2 separate regions of the Homo sapiens genome follow, and region 2 is linked to region 1. Evidence: fine-mapped expression QTL. A gene starts in region 1. The other region holds a variant in brackets. All regions are shown on one strand. Distances are from middle to middle.

Region 1 (8,326 bases):
CAGAAAGGGGACAGGAGAATGTGGTGCTGTGGGCAGGATGCTGAGGGCAGAGGCCCCTCCCCACAGGTGCTGAGCAGGTCGGGCAAGGAGGAGCTTCCAGCCTCCATCCAGGCAGGACTTCTGACCACTGCTAGAGGCCCCTTCTCAGGAGGTCCTGTCCCAGCCAAGGGCCAGCTCCAGAGACTTTTGTCCATCTTCCCTAAGATGGACACGATGCAGGTGGCTGTGTCTGGGCCCTAGAAATTTCAGGACTGAGCCATGGTGAAGACAGGAGGGGATTGTGGGCCCTGGATGTCCCTGTGCAGCCCATGCCTCTAGCTTGGACCATTCACCGCCCAGGTACCTCCTCGCTAGGTCTCCAAGCCCCAGTGGTCATGTGACAGGCCATGGGGCAGGGCTGGGATGGGTTCAGGGCTCCATGTGCTTCCTGAGAGGGCTGAAGGGTTGCATCCCTCCAGAGCAGCCCAAGGCATAGTAGCCACTGCTACCCCACTCAGTCTCGGTGAGCAGGCTTGTCGGGGATGTAGGGGCCTGGTCCTCCAGTGGCAGGTAGGCAGGCAGCGGTGCCTCTCACTCCTCACACTCTGCTGGCAGCATATCCTCCAAACTTGGGGCCCCTAGGAGGTGTCCCCATGCCCTCCTGCTCTCCTCCAGGCTGACAGATTTCCAGGGACATGCTGAGTCACAGGTGAGTACTGCAGTGGCCTCTCGCACACTGAATTCCAAGGCTCCTTGCGAGGTGCTGGCACAGTCCTGGCTCAGCTGCACGCTGGCCCTGTGGGCCCCCATCCAGGTTAGAAGCAGAGTATGGGATGAGGAAAGGGATCAGGCAGCATGATCAGAACTCACCCTGGGAGTGGCAGCCTCCTCCTCAGCAAGCCCTCCCTCCTCCTCCAAGAAGCCCTCCTGATGTCCACACCCAGAGGCCAAGCAGCACCTGTGCCAGGAGCATTCTGTCTTCCTTACTATGTGCCAGCTCAGCCTCAACATGGGACCCTGAGTCTCTTCAAGTCCCCTCACTGCTCCCCTAGCACAGAGCCTGGTGCTCACAGCAGCCTGCACCAGGGTACAGATGGTGACATGTGCTGAGGAAAAAACAAACACTTGGCAGCATGCAGCATGTGTCCCAGGGCCTTTCAGCAGCTACAGAGACTGGGTACCCCCACCTGAACAATTTTCTCTGTCTCTCTCTCTCACACACACATAGCATGACGGACAGGTGACACGAAGACTGGTGACTTTCAAGGTGCTTGGGAAAGGCCAGCAGACCTGAATCCTTCTGTGGGGACACAGGAGACCTCTGCTTCCAAAAGGAAGCTCTTCCCTAGGTGGGACCAGAAGTATCCATCCAACACGCCACACACACACCACACCCTCCATCACTGCACTGCTCCCTGCCAGACCCTCACCCAAGGCCTAAATAATCCCTGGCAGATGCCCTGGTTCTATAGAGAAGGGCTGGTGTCTGCAAGGGGATGACACAGGCCAGGGTACGATCACAACCTCTGCCCCGCTCAGACTTGTCCTCAGCTGCCCAGGCTCTTGACAGTCACATTTGCCACTGTGAGGAAAGATGGGAAATCTGCCAAGACCCAAGTGCTCAGTTTTAAGCTTTAAATTATATTTTTGAACAACAATCCTAAGAACTGGGCTTCCTGTTGAAAGGGAAAATGATTTTTCTACATAATATGCTGGCAATACTGTGTGGAGGGGATATCTCTGCTGCACAGGGTCCAGGGAAGCCCTGCAGCACCAGGAAAGGAGATCCTGGTGTCACCCTACAAGGAAGAAGCTGAGACAAAGTTAATCTTAGTAGAGAGTTTATTTGAGACAAACTTCAGGATTGCAACTCTGGAGCATAGATTCAAGTTATCCTGAATATACACTGCAATTAGCAGCAGTTATGAGCTGATTTTTAAAGGCAAAACAAGGTGGGCAGGGAAGGGGCAGATACAATTCCTCAGGAATTTTAGTTGGTTCATAGCAATAACACTGCTTAGTGATGGGCCGTACACTGTTAAGCTATAGGGTGTGGGGTATGGCGTCTGGTGTGGCATTATGAGGTAAATTCATAGCTACTTCTGGCAACAGCAGTATCAAGAAATGAATACACAGCTCAATGTGAGGGAGTAGGACATGACTGTGGTCTCATTTTAATGCCTCTTTCTGGGCCTGATAATTAAAGCACTTGCATTTCTCAGATAAAAGTTATTTTATTTTCCTGACTGGTAAAGACCCAGGTCAGCTTGGTCCAGACCGCAGGGAGAGGCCCTCATGCCCTGTGTCCTTTGCCCAAAGTGAGAAGCCTGAGGGAGCACACTGGAGCCCACCCCTGGAGCTCTCCCTCTGCCCTTCCTCCTACCCACGGGGCATGAACTGCCAGCTCAGCAGGGAGGGGAGGGTCCTATGTGACCCCCAAGTAGTTCGCTGATACATGGGCTGTGGGAGCCAGACGAGGCCCACAGAGGGGGAAATGCAGAGCCCATTCCTGACTCTGGTGCCAATGTGTGACTCCAGGGGAATCGAAGGGGTGGGCAGACCAGGAGCCCAGGGTCAGTGAGGGTCCCAGGGGCAGCACAAGTGCTGGAGACCCTCCCCGACAGCCACCGGACAGACACTCACAGAAGGAGGAGGTGAGACCCATGGTGGGCACGGATAGCTGCAAAGCAGAGGAAACAGAGATAAGTTATGAGAAACTTATATATATTTTCCATCAACCATGGAATGGAAGACACAAGAAAAATAAATCATCAATGGAAAATAAAGTGGTTTTTTTTTGTCCACTTGAGACACAGAGGATAAATTTAAATTCACTGTATACACACACAAAAAGGCTCAGAACACTCATAAGTCGCCCACAGTGGCCCCCAACCGTCATCAAAGCCAACATCCTGGGCAGGCTAGACCTTGGGGCAACACCTGCCTTCCATGCCCTGTGGCAGTCTCTGCACTCTCCTGAAGTTCCCATTGTGCGCACTGTAGGGGGCTGGAAGAATGTTGCTGGAGAGGACATATTCTGGAAGAGGGTTCTTTCCACCCTGAGGCCAGGAGAAGACAGTCAGAGGCCCACGGGGACCCAGGTCGGGGCTCCTGCTGAGGCCCCAGTCGGTACGAGGTCACTGCAGGGGCTGAGCTCCCTTCCATCCAGGAAGACCTTATCTGCCTCATTCCTGCCACTGCCTCTCTCCCGTCTCACCCCATCCAAACCTACTCTCATCTCAGGGCAGGATCCAACTGGGTACCCTGTGGCCTCGTTGGCTAACTGATTTATACTAAGGTATGTGTCCTTTACAGTGTGAGCTGTGATGGTGAGTTTAGAATTGACTCGCCATGACTGCAGCCTGCAGAGGGAGCCAGCACCTCCAGGAACCCCATTCTTGCCATCAGCAGAGGGTCTATGGCTCCCACCTCATCCAGTGTCTCCCTGAGCACCATGTCTGCCTGACCAGGACCCAGTGGTCCTCCCATGAGGATGCTGCCTAGGGCTCCAACCCAATAGGTCCAAATACACCTCACCAACCTCCCCTCGGGGCTGTCCCCCCATTCCCCACCTCAGGGTCGGGTCACTACTCATATCTCATCCACCCACATGTCTCCTCAGTCTCAAGACTCTGCAATTTCCTCCATGTGGCTCCATCTCCACTTTTCCCACCAGCTCAAGCCAAATCTTATCTCTATGGACATCCCATTGGCCCTCATCAGGTCCCCCATGTCTGCTTGTTCCTGCAATCCATTCTCAAAACATAAAGCATAACATGTCACACAGTTTCACACTCTTCAGCACTTTCCTTTGCTCTGAGGAGAAGCCAGGCACCCACTCACCTGGCCCCACCCAGCACCCCCATCCCCACACACTCTTCCTTGCATCCTCCCTGCTACCTGATGGGGCCCCTGTGCCCCTCTTGTAAGCTGACATGCAGTGCACATTGGGGATGGCTTACTGAAGAGGCCCCTTGTCTGTCCTGTTCTCTAAGACATCTGCAGAGGCAAGAACAGATCCTGTGCATATCAGATGCCCCCAACTGTGCTTTCACACAATGTGTGAACAAAGAAGCAAACCAAGCTCCTCCAGAGGCAGGAGACAAGGACCTCCGGCTTCTTGGTCCCCGTGACACCGGGTCTGGTTGAGGCCAAGCTGCCCTCATCTTTGACCTGTTCTCTCCTTCCCTTCTCTCCCCAGGCAACATGAGAACCTCCAACTGGCCCAGGGAAGGAACTTGTAAAGCCCACCCCAACCAGGATAAGACAGTGGGGCATAAATGGGAGGAGAGGGGTTGGCTGTCAGTGCCACACTCAATGAACACTCACACATGCACACACTGATGCGTGCACACACGTGACATAAGTACACACGGTGACATCCCAATACATTCACAAACATACACAACACAAACAGGCCCAAACCCTCACTCTGAAACCTAACCCCACCCCCAAACTGCAACCCGGAACTCAAGTCCTAGCCTGAACCTTGACCCCAAACCCCAACTCAAGTCAGAAGGTAAACCATGGGCCGAATCCCGAACTGGAACTCAAACCCCAGCAGGAACCTGAACTCTTCCATTGTCTTTCCTCATCTGGCGCATGGGACTCAGCACCTGAGACTCTGTTGTGGCCCTCTGAATGAGCTGCGCCCCTCGTTCTTGTCCTCTCCACCAGCTGCGCTCCCTGTCCCTCTTCTCCCAAGGAGCCACCCGGCCCATGTCCCCCGCCCCGGTGGTCCCGATGAGATGCACCCAGGCTGACCCAGGGTGCAAATCCCCACCCCAATCCCCAACGCAAACCCTGAACGAGAGGCCTCGTCTAAACTTTAATCCCAAACTCCACCTCAAATTGGAACCGGAACCACAGATGGAAGCCTGAACCGGAACTCAAAGCCCAGCTGGAACCTGAACCCCGCCCTCGCCTGTGAGCACCTGCGCCCGGGTCTCGCCCTCCCCACGAGCTTCACCTCTGACCCCGACCTCCCCTAGAACTGCGCTTTCTACCCCGCAGTCCCAGGGTATCGCAAGCCGTCCCTCACACCCCACCTCCAGCAACGCCCTCTCGCCCTGTCTCCCCCACCTTCACTGTGAGCTGCAGCCCCCATGTCCCTGCCGTCCCCCTCACCCTCCCGGGAGCTGTGCCCACCTGACCCGGCATTTGCGCCTTTGTCTTCGTGGCCCGGAAGTGGCCCCGCCGGCGGAAGCACGAGAAGTGGCCACGTGCTGTACAGCGGCTGGCTGAGGAAGTCGCCCCCCGAGAAGAAGCTGAGGCTCTTTGTGAGTGGGGCAGTGGGGGCGGTACCAGGAGCGCCACGGAGGGTCTGGGGACTCCGGGAGGGGCGTGGGGGAGGCGGCCTGGGTCCACGGGAGGAGCTGCGGGTGGAGGCGACTTCTCCACGTCTGCATGCGAAGGCGACTCCCCGCCAGTGAGAGACAGGGTCCAGGTTTGTGTGGGTTGCGTTCCGAGACCCAGGGAGTTGATTCCAGGGCTGGGGACCCTATTACCTTGAGCGCCGTGGGCCTGCAGGTCGGAGAGTGGGCGGGAAAGGGGACACAGCAGGCTCCGCAGCCTCGCAAAACGGCAGGAACCTCGCACCCGCTCCCCTTCCCTCCCAGGCCCTGAGAATGGCGGGCACCTCGCACCCTCTCTCCTTCCCTCCCAGGCCCCAAGGAAGGCAGGCGCCTTAAACCTGCTCACCTTCCCTCCCAAGCCCCGAGAAGGCAGGCACCTCACACCCTCTCCCTTTCCCTCCCGGGCCCCAGGAAAACGCGGGCACCTCGCACCCGCTCGCTCCCCTTCCCTCCTCACCCGCCACTCCCGGGGTCGTTCGCGTCCTTCCATGCCACCACGCCTGCTGAGGGACAGTGTGCACTGCAGTGTAGTTTTCTATATATTAATTCATGTGGTTAAACGATTTAGAAAAAAAGAAGATTGGTTGCCCTTTCCCCTAGTGGCTAATTTGAAGAGTGTTGTTCTAAATTTCAACAATTTTACTGAGGAAGCGGTAATTGTTAGGAGTCACTATGATTATACCAAGGTACATAGAAGAGGCTTTTCTCTCCTGTTCCTTAGCCCCAGGTCCAGCCCTTCAAGAATCTATTCCAGAATAAGCTGATCCTATAGTCATCTTCCCTTTCCTCTGCTTCCCTGAGGTATGGGGTATGATCAATTCTGCGTTCTTGTCTTTCTCCATTTCTTTTTTCAATTTTTTATTATACTTTAAGTTCTGGGATACATGTGCAGAACGTGGAGGTTTGTTACATACATATACACGTGTCATGGTGGTTTGCTGCACCCATCAACCCATCATCTACATTAGGTATTTCTCGTAATGCTATCCCTTCCCTTGCCCCCCAACCCCAATAGGCCACATTGTGTAATGCTCCCGTCCCTGTGCCCATATGTTCTCATTGTTCAGCTGCCACTTATGAGTGAGAACATGGCGGTGTTTGGTTTTCTGTTCCAGTGTAAGTTTGCTGAGAATGATGATTTCCAGCTTCATCCATGTCCCTGTAAAGAACATGAACTCATTCTTTTTTATGGCTGCATAATATTCCATAGTGTATATGTGCCATATTTTCTTTATCCAGTCTATTATTGATGGGCATTTGGGTTGGTTCCAAGTCTTTGCTGTCGTGAATAGTGCTGCAATAAACATACGGGTGCACTTGTCTTTATAGTAGAATGATTTGTAATCCTTTGGGTATATACCCAGTAATGGGATGGCTGGGTCAAATGGTATTTCTAGTTCTTGATCCTTGAGGAGTCGCCACACTGTCTTTGACAATAGTTGAACTAATTTACACTCCAACCAACAGTGTAAAAACATTCCTATTTCTCCACATCTTCTCCAGCATCTGTTGTTTCCTGACTTTTTAATGATGGCCATTCTAACTGGCGTGAGATGGTATCTCGTTGCATTTCTCTAATGACCAGTGATGATGAGCATTTTTTCATGTTTGTTGGCCACATAAATATCTTCTTCTGTTAAGTGTCTGTTCATATCCTTTGCCCACTTCTTGATAGTGTTGTTGTTTTTTTCTTGTAAATTTGTTTAAATTCCTTATACATTCTGGATATTAGCCCTTTGTCAGATGGATAGATTGGAAAAAATTTCTGCCATTCGGTAGGTTGCCTGTTCACGCTGATGATAGTTTCTTTTGCTATGCAGAAGCTCTTTAGTTTAAATAGATCCCATTTGTCAATTTTGGCTTTTGTTACCATTGCTTTTCATGTTTTAGTTATGAAGTCTTTGCCCATGCCTATGTCCTGGATGATATTGCCTAGGTTTTCTTCTAAGGTTTCTATGGTTTTAGGTCTTACGTTTAAGTCTTTAATCCATCTTGACCCCGACCTCCTTCAGAACTGAGTTAATTTTTGTATAAGATATAAGGAAGGGGTCCACTTTCAGTTTTCTGCCCATGGCTAGCCAGTTTTCCCAACACCATTTATTAAATAGGGAATCCTTTCCCCATTGCTAGTTTTTGTCAGGTTTGTCAAAGATCAGATGGTTGTAGATGTGTGGTGTTATTTCTGAGGCCTCTGTTCTGCTCCATTGGTCTATATATCTGTCTTGGTACCAGTAACATGTTTTGGTTACTGTAACCTTGTAGTACAGTTTGAAGTCAGGTAGTGTGATGCTTCCAGCTTTGTTATTTTTGCTTAGGATTGTCTTGGCTATACGGGCTCTTTTTTGGTTACATGTGAAATTTAAAGTGGATTTTTCTAATTCTGTGAAGAAAGTCAATGGTAGCTTGATTGGAATAGCAATGAATCTGTAAATTACTTTGGGCAGTATGGCCGTTTTCACAATATTGATTCTTCCTATCCATGAGCATGGAATGTTCTTCCATTTGTTTGTGTCCTCTCTTATTTCCTTGAGCAGTGGTTTGTAGTTCTTCTTGAAGAAGTCCTTCACATCTCTTGTAGGTTGTATTCCTAGGTATTTTATTCTTTTGGTAGCAATTGTGAATGGGAGTTCACTCATGATTTGGCTCTCTATTTGTCTATTATTGGTGTATAGGAATGCTTGTGATTTTTGCACATGGATTTTGTATCCTGAGACTTTACTGAAGTTGCTTACCAGCTTCAGGAGTTTTTGGGCTGAGATGATGGGGTTTTCTAAATATACAATCATGTCATCTGCAAACAGAGACAATTTAACTTCCTCTCTTCCTGTTTGAATACCGTTTATTTCTTTCTCTTGCCTGATTGTCCTGGCCAGAACTTCCAATACTATGTTGAATAGGAGTGGTGAGAGAGGGCATCCTTGTCTTGTGCCGGTTTTCAAAGGGAATCCTTCTAGCTTTTGCCCATTCAGTATGATATTAGCTGTGGGTTTGTC
Region 2 (8,326 bases), 50 kb after region 1:
TGTGAGGAGAACTCACTGTGTGGGAGGGTTCTAGAGCCCGGCCATTGATGCGGGGGACCTCAGAAGGAACTCCTGGGTCCAGGAAAGCCTCCCGAGAAAGCACATGTAGCCAGCCTGTCTAGACAGCAGGGTGGAGAGCTCCATCTCTGTGCATTGCGCCCCTTGGGGAGATAGGGCTCACCAAGGGCACCCCTGGAAAGGCCTAGGCTGGTGCTTGTTGACACCTGGGAAATTTCCTGCCATGGATGAGTGTTTAGAGGGGAAGGCCTTGGCCAGTCCTTGGGCCAGAGAAGGGCCTGGCTCTTCCTGCGAGGTGGGAGATGAGAAGTGCTGGCCAGGGCTATGGCATCCAGCAGGAGGAGAGGTTAGCCTGGAGTTGAGGCTTTAAAGCCCAGGCCCCCCAGGCTGCTGAGAGCAGGAGGCAGAGGTTCCTTCCCCCTGAGAAAGTTTGAGAGAGCCCACTCCTTGGCCTGCCCTTCCTCACCAGGAACTCACAGACACTGCCACTCCCACTTCCACCCTCTGTCCCTCAGCCATCCATAGGCTCTGTCACGTCCGGCAAGAAGGTGGACTATGTCCAGGTGGATCTGGAGAAGACCCAGGCCCTGCAGAAGACCATGCATGAACAGATGTGCCTGCGGCAGTCCTCAGAGCCTCCCAGGGGCGCCAAGCTGTGACTCGGGCCACCAAAACCAGAGTGGGGCCAGGACAGTGCCTCAGAGCTGCTCCGCCACACTCTAAAGCTCTGTAATATCAGGGACCGCATCCCTTACATAGAGAGCAGAGGCCTGATCAATATACATCCTTTGCCTGCTTGGGGCCCACCTGTGCCTTTGGCTGGCCATGGTCCCCACCTTCACCCCCTTGCTAGGAGCAGTTGCCAGCAAGCATCCTCAGTCTCTTCCTGCCCCTCAGACCCGGGCTCCCAACAGATTTCCACTCTCACACTTACTCATGGTCCTCAGCCTCTTCCTTCTAGCCTCTGGGCTGTTTCCCTCAATCCTGGAACATGAGGAGCTACCTTGCTGACCCGGGGACCCAAGGCCCACAGGCCACAGTGGACATGGACCTTTTCAGCCCTGGCATTTTTTGGTCAGGGGAGAGGCAAGGCCATCAAACGTTGGAATAGTTGAGAAGGAAGGTTAAAGGTGGTCTTGAGAAGCAAAGGAATTAGATCCTTAGACCAGCAGGGCAGCTGATACCTGCAAGGGCTCCCACTTTCAGACTGAGGCCAGAGTATGGCAGCTGCTCCCGGGTGGGAGAGGCAGAGAGGGAAGGGCAAAAGGAAGGGAAAACATGAAGACGAACAGCCGAAAGCCACAAGAAGCAGGGCTGGAGCTCCAGAGACTGGGGTGACAAGGACCAGGGTCAGGGCCCCAGAAATCCGGAGCTGCAGGCTGGCTCTGCTGCTCTTTGCTGATGCCCCTTGGGGGGCCCTTGCCTGCCTAAGAAGGCTTGATCTGAGCTGGGCAAAGCAGCAACTGATGGGGGAAATACCTGCAGGGTGAGGGGTGGGATGGGGCAGGGAGTGAGGGAGGAAGGGAGCATGTGCAGATGGAGATGGCTCAGGGCTGAGGGGCTCCTGGGACAGGCAGGGGCCCGAGGCAGGGCCCGGGACTCCGCAGTGCAGGTGGTGCAGCACGTGACCTTCTGTGAAGGGGCAGAGCAGTGGGGAGGGCACAGAGGGAACCCATGGGAGGCAAGGCCGGGGAGACAGCCAGGGAGAAGTGGGGAAATGTGGCCAGGGGCCCTGGGGGCATGCCATCAGTGGTGAAAGGAATACAGGAGCAGAAGGTGAAGGGGGGTCTGCTATGCATGGGAGCAGTGTGGGAGGCCAGCTGGAGGGGCATCTGGGACGCGGGTAGAGCCTGCAGGGAGGACGGCCTGGGGTGGGGCTGAGGCTGTGCCAGGCCGTGTTTCCCTCTCACTTCGCCCTCTTCCTTGGCGTTCCAGTGCCACATTGGACTCAAACTTGGCTATGGGGACAGGAGAAGCCAGTCTCCTCCTCCTGTGACTTGAGAGATTCTCAAATCGCAGGTTCAGAAGGTAGGCCCTCACCCAGGGCTTCTTGTGCCAAAGTTCAGGTAGGGATCTGAATTTTTTGTTGAAAGTTTTTGACCAAAATTTCGAAGAGTTTCAGAATGAACAGGGCAGAGCGGACACTTCATCCTACCTTGGGGTGAACAGACTTTCCTCCTCCAAAAAATGACTGCCCACAGGGTTTGATGGAGGCGGCCTCCACACCCTGTCAGCACCTGTGAGCACCACACTTCACCAGACCAGGGGCCTGGCTGGCTTCTGGGGATCCATCCCTCAGCAGGAGCCCTCTCCCCTGGCAGCTCAAAGGCTCAGGTGGCAAGGCCCCGGGCTTAGGCACTGAGGACACGGGGAATCTATTAGACCTTTTCCCAAACGTGACAAGGTCACATCAGTGAGGGAAAGGACAAGGACACAGACAGTGGTGATGGCCAAGATAGGCTGAAGATGCTGATGGGGTGCACAGGAAGTGAAAACTCCTCAGGGAGTGGAGGCAGAGAAGGTGGTTTTTAGGACAAGGGGTGCCTGAATTAGTCTTGAGAGGTTAGGTCAGATTTTTGCAGGGAAGGAGGGCAGGGCCAGGCTGCAGTGGAGGAAGGAACGACAGACTGGAAAAGCCTGTGCTGAGGGGCCACAGGAGCTTTGGAGGGCAGGTCCAGCTGCTCAGAACTGCAGGGGCCGGGCCTTTGTGCTCCCACGGGTGGAATGGTGATGGCTGTGTGACCACACTGGGCAGAGTGTGCAGGGTGCTGGCTCACTGGCCCAGCCCTGACTGTGTCCCTGTAAGGTCCTCTACAAGGGGTCCCATACAGCACAGCTCTTAACTGCCATCCCCTGTCCCCAGCTGACTACAGTGGGGCCCAGTATTGATCTCAGCTCCCAGCCCAGCCACCTTCCCTGTTGATCCCAGGCTGCTAAGAAAGTGCTGCATGTTCTGAGTGTGCATGGTGTGCATGAACTTGGTGGAGGCTTCAGAGACTGAGGTGTTCAAGTCCCATCTCCAGAGGGGTTCCTTCCAGCTCTTGGTTCCTGTGACCACCAAACCCTGAGGGTGAAAGTAGGGGTGGAGATGGAAAGAAGGACAAGAGAAGAGGACACTGGCCTATTGGAAGCAGAGCTCTACTCCCAAGCCTGGACTCCAGCCATGTCTAGCATGTATCCCCCCCTCCACCCACCATCCCAGAAGGAAAAGTCAACTCAGCTTAATACAGGGGTCCTTGGACCTATCTTGAGGTTAAAGTCCACCTCCCCTGGTGGCCTGGCCAGGACTGAGACCCCAAAAAGGGACACCTCAGCCAGTGCAGCTCACATGGGGGCTTGTCCTGCTGGGCTCTCCAGGGGAGCCGTCTTCACCCACCCCCACCACCTGCAAAGTTAGAGAGCAGTCAGGTGGGAACAATGAGAAACGGGCAAGGACATCTCCCTAGGACTTTGCTTTCCCATCTGTGGAGTGGGTGGTTGGATTCGATGTTGTCTGGCCCCTTCCTAGGCTGAGGCTCTGCTGGTCTCGGAGCTCCTTGCTCTGTTACTTCTCTCTGGAGGCTCTGCATCGCAAGGGATGAGCAGCACGAGAGCTTTGGCCAATTAGTCCCTTTCTGGCTTGATATGGACAACTTCTTCATTTCAAACTATTAAAATAGACCACATTCCTACGGCAGAAGCACAACCATTCTGGTTATGGGAACATAGGCTCAGCTGTAGTCGGCCTTGTGGTCCTTCAACGTGCTGTGAGGCTGTCATCTTAGTCCCAGGCCCTGGCACAGCATCACCCACATGACTGTGACCCCCAGGGACATGCAGGACAGGGAAGTGAGCACTTCTGTTCTGGGCCTGGGCCTTGATCTGGGAAGTGTGGGGGAGGGGAGGCTGACCTGCAGAGCACTAAGAGCATCATTCTGGGATACACCAGGCCCCTGAGGCCTGGGACGATGGCCGTCTGCCTGCTGAGAGCCCACTGCAGAGTCAGGCTGGTATGTTTGGTCCAGCGGTGTGTGTCCTTGTGTATTTGTTGGCTACTTGTATCTTGCTGTTTAGAATCATTTTGTACAGAATGTTTGGTTTCTCATTAAGAGAAAATGGGCAAGAAGCCCAGTCTTAAGTTCTTGTCTTGGTACCATTTAAAATTGACATTTCATTTTTTTTTTTTTTTTTTTTTTTTTTTTGAGACGGAGTCTCGCTCTGTCGCCCAGGCCGGACTGCGGACTGCGGACTGCAGTGGCGCAATCTCGGCTCACTGCAAGCTCCGCTTCCCGGGTTCACGCCATTCTCCTGCCTCAGCCTCCCGAGTAGCTGGGACTACAGGCGCCCGCCACCGCGCCCGGCTAATTTTTTGTATTTTTAGTAGAGACGGGGTTTCACCTTGTTAGCCAGGATGGTCTCGATCTCCTGACCTCATGATCCACCCGCCTCAGCCTCCCAAAGTGCTGGGATTACAGGCGTGAGCCACCG[T/C]GCCCGGCCGACATTTCATTTTTCAAATCACTGTTGGTGCCTAATCACTGAAGTTATTCCATTTTCTTTTAAAACTTTTGTTATGTGTATTTACCCTGTGAGCACACCTGGGGGTGACAGGAGTGTGCTCAAGAGGCTATCATTTCTGCTGTGGTCACTGGACAGGCCTCGTGCTGGCAGGCTCCTTTGTACTGAAGCACTGGAGCAGGACGGTAGTGAAGTTCATGAGGAATACAGCCCAGGGTGGGCTGCTTGGGTCTTTCTGGGAGTGGAGCCCACACTCACTCAAGTCTCACCTTAGGCTGAGCCTGAGCACCTGGCTGCCCTGGGCAGGCACAGACACACACTGTCAACAAGAAAACCATTTCAGAATCATTTCTCCAATGACCCAGGAAGGCCACTGTGCCAGTCTGTTCACTTCATCTTAAATAGGAAATAGGTACTTTTCCTGGCTCAGAGAGAAAATAAATTCTCTTTATCACAGAATCTACTTTCCTAATCTGTAAACTGGACATTGTGCTAGCACCTGCCAATCCGTCTTTCTTAGAAGGGAGTCTAGAGGTGGTTCTGAGAGGGCTTCATCTGTGTCTGTGTCCACTGGGCCCCTGGCAACAGGTTCCTGAGGTCTGACATCTCACAACTCCCCTCCACTGCTCCACCCACTGCACAAGTGGGGCAGCCCTTGAGGTCCCTGGTGCCTTTTTACCTTCCATGTTCTCCCAAATGGCACTGTAGGAATGGTGCTTGCGGACCCTGTGGTAAGGGCTGCTCCCAAGCCCCGTACATGCCCCACTTCTCTGCTTCAACTCCAGGATGGGGTGGGGCCCAGGAAAGGAGCCGGGTGCGGGCTCTGGAGTGGGAAACCTGTGGTGAGGGCTGATCCTGGGCTCTGCGAGTGTGGCTGCTCCTGCGTTTCTCTAGCTCCAGGCTGGGTTGTTGCCTGTGGTAAGGAGCTAGGTGTAGGCATGGTAGGTGCACCATGGCCCTGTGGTGACAGCTGGTCCTGGGCCCTGCCAGTGTGGCTGCTCATGTGCTCCTCTCCAGCTCCTGGATGGGATGGTGTCCATGGGAAGGAGATGGGTTCGAGTTCTGGAGAAACAGGGGGCTGCCTCCCAGCTAGCCCTGACCCATGCCAAGTCCAGCTCTGGAGATGTGACAACCCCCTCTCAACCTCCCCAGCTTCTCAGATGCAAGGAAAGAGGGATGTGGCATCTGCAACAGGTGTTTGTGGGCAGTCCAGAATTCTTGGGTCTGAAACATTTCCAGTTATTTATTTGGGTTTCAAGTGCACCTGAGAGGTGAGTCCCCTCCACAGTATTCCACTGGGACCCCCCATCCTGTGCACCCTTCCTCTCTCTTCCATTCCATCCTCTAGGTCCTCCCAGCCTCAGAACTAGGCAAGTCCTTCAGCACACAGGGCTGTCACTCCATGCTGTACCTCAAGTGATGGGGACAGGGGTATGTCCTCTCCTTACCAAGGAGCAGCATGGGTCCCTATCATGCTGCCCAGATGCAGTGAGGAAATCGAGGGTACAGCATACAGGAAGAGCAACAGCTTTCAAAGGCTTCAGAGAGGCTGGTTTCATACTGCTTGAGAACAAGGGTCTTTCTCTTCATAGAAAAGAGGCTATAGCATGGTCAAGGCACAAGAAGATCACTGGACTGCCCTCGCTCAGCCCTCAGCTACTGCTCTGGCTGTCCATGGCTGAAACTCATCCTGCTGGCCAAAGCCTTTGCTGTTCCAGTTGTTAAATATTTTGATACCACCCTTAACTCTAAAGGGTGGAGTCACAGGCACAGTTAGGAGGTAGAACTAACCTCCCACTGACACTTGGCCATTCACACTCGTAGAACAGCACACTTACTAAACAACTGCATAATTCATTATTCAAAGTCTGTTCCTCTGAAGTAAGGGGTTAGGTGCCTGGGCCACCGATATATTCCGAGCACTGAGCAATGAATGAATGAATGGATGGATGGATTTTTTTAAAAGGCTCAAAGTGAAGGGAAATATTGTATCGAACCAGTGCTTGGCTGGGACTGGATGCATCTCCACCCAGGAGATCAAATCCAGGATCCTGGTGTGTCTGCTCTTCCACAGGTGAGGATGCTGCTGTCCTTGGAAATGGCTTCCGTTCAGCCCTATGGAGGGTGGACATGGTCCAGACTCTGGGAGAGCCCGGCTCAGCCTTGGGCCCCTCCCTAGGCCACTGCTGGTAAAAGAGCACACAGACCTTCCTTGGGTAAAAGGGAGGGGACATTGCAGATAGACAGCAGGAGAAGGCCACCTGTGTGGGCAGTTCCCATAGGGCCTAGGCGGCAGCACCCTTGCGGGCTTAGCAGTGGTTGGGACGGCTCTCCTGGGACACTCCAGAGAGTGCTGGTTCAGTGCTAGTCCACAGTCCTGGCCTGGCACCAGCAAGTGGGGCAGTGATGTCACCCAGGATCTTGCAGTTCCTGCATTGAAGGGGAAGCACAGCAATCTCTGGATGAGGTAGTGTGGCGCCTGGCTCAGGCCCCTGCCTGTTCAACACCCTTCAGGACAGCACCCACCTCGCTGGAGCAGCGGTTCTCTGCTGTCAGCCTGAGGGAACAGGAAGTAGTTGACCAGGTTCAAGTCAAAGCTGGAGACCACACAGCGCCTTCACAGAGAGGGTAGTGGTGTCCTGTGGGTCCCTGGTCCCAGGCCATTCTCCCCCTTCTTGTTCACCTTCTTCATTCACCTCTGTACCCTCAACAGCCCAGGGATGCCTGGCAATGTGGGTGCTCAGAGGTCACAGTAGATGAATGATACTTACAGCACATGAAGGCCCCAGACTTAATGCAGTAGGTGGAATCACTGGAGAGAGAGATGTGGGCAGCAGTACAGAATGGGGCTCGAGGGGGCCCTGCCATGGCCCCACAGTCTCTGTCATGAACCTGTGCTAGCATGGACAAGGGCTCAATAGCTTCTTCCATGAAGTAGGCTCTTGTAGTCAGATGCAGGTAGGTCCTGGGGCAGGGAGGGTGTCACTGTGGAGGCCTGACCAGAGCTTCCTTTCCACCCACTCCTCCCCCTGCACACACTTGGCTGTGATCCAGGAAGGCAAAGAGCCACTGCAGCCTGGAAATAAAAGGCTGTGAGTTGTTCTCAAATGAAGCCAAGAGTGTTTGAAGCTTCACAAAAAAGCAGGAGTGCCCAGGGTAAGCAAAGGCCCCAAAGGAGCTTCTCCTCACCCATGGCCTCCAGGCCGAAGGCAGAACAGGCATTTCTAGTTCAAGGTGAGGCTGGAGGCATGGGACCTGGAGGAAGAGAAGGTGAACACTTGGCCCAGAGTGTTTGGGATCAGAAACACAGCAATGACCTTGGTTTGGAAAATAAGCGGTATAGCAAGGTAACCCCCGAAGTCCCTTCTAGCTCTGACATCCCATAGCCCCAGGAGCCAAAAATTAGTGTGTCCTAACATCTTGTGATGCCAGGGTTCTAAGGCTGGGGCTCTGGTCTGCCACAGAGTTCATGTCAACATCATCCCACCCACAGCAGCCCCCACACCCCTTTCTCCGTGGTTCCCCAGGAAAGAACATACAGACCCCTGCAAAGCAGCAAGCTCCACCTCTGTCCCAGTCCACTGCTGCAGCCCCTGTTCGGGGTCCTGGCCCTAGAACCACCATGAGTTATTCTACCCACACCGCTTTCTCCCTGCTTCCCCGGGACAGGGCATTCAGACCTATGCAGGGCAGTGCATCTGGCTCCAACACACGGCCCCAGTTCACTCCTGCAGTCCCTGCTCAGCACCCTGGCCCTAGAGTCACCCAAAGTTATCCCCCTGCCTTCAAATGAGAAAGGCAGGCATCAGTATGA

Alleles and levels. Positions count from the first base shown, and alleles are read on the strand shown. Sizes are in standard deviations (SD) of each study's normalised expression.
For the expression in testis of the gene that starts at base 4,977 in region 1, allele C in region 2 goes with a higher level than allele T (small effect, 0.36 SD a copy in GTEx).

The links. PIP is the estimated chance that this variant, and not a neighbour inherited with it, causes the effect.
Region 2: its variant is fine-mapped to the expression of GAB4 in testis (GTEx, PIP 0.99).

The regions. Positions count from the first base shown.
Region 1 is chr22:17,004,873-17,013,198 of GRCh38, reverse strand. GAB4 (GRB2 associated binding protein family member 4) reads left to right here and starts at 4,977. Exons shown (of 10, transcript NM_001037814.1): 1 at 4,977-5,258. The coding sequence starts at 5,085. It also overlaps the pseudogene IL9RP6.
Region 2 is chr22:16,955,084-16,963,409 of GRCh38, reverse strand. It overlaps GAB4 (GRB2 associated binding protein family member 4), which reads left to right. Exons shown (of 10, transcript NM_001037814.1): 10 at 534-1,474. The coding sequence ends at 677. Among named protein-coding and RNA genes, the nearest start is that of GAB4, 49 kb to the left of the region's middle. The variant T/C (reference allele first, on the strand shown) is at 4,486.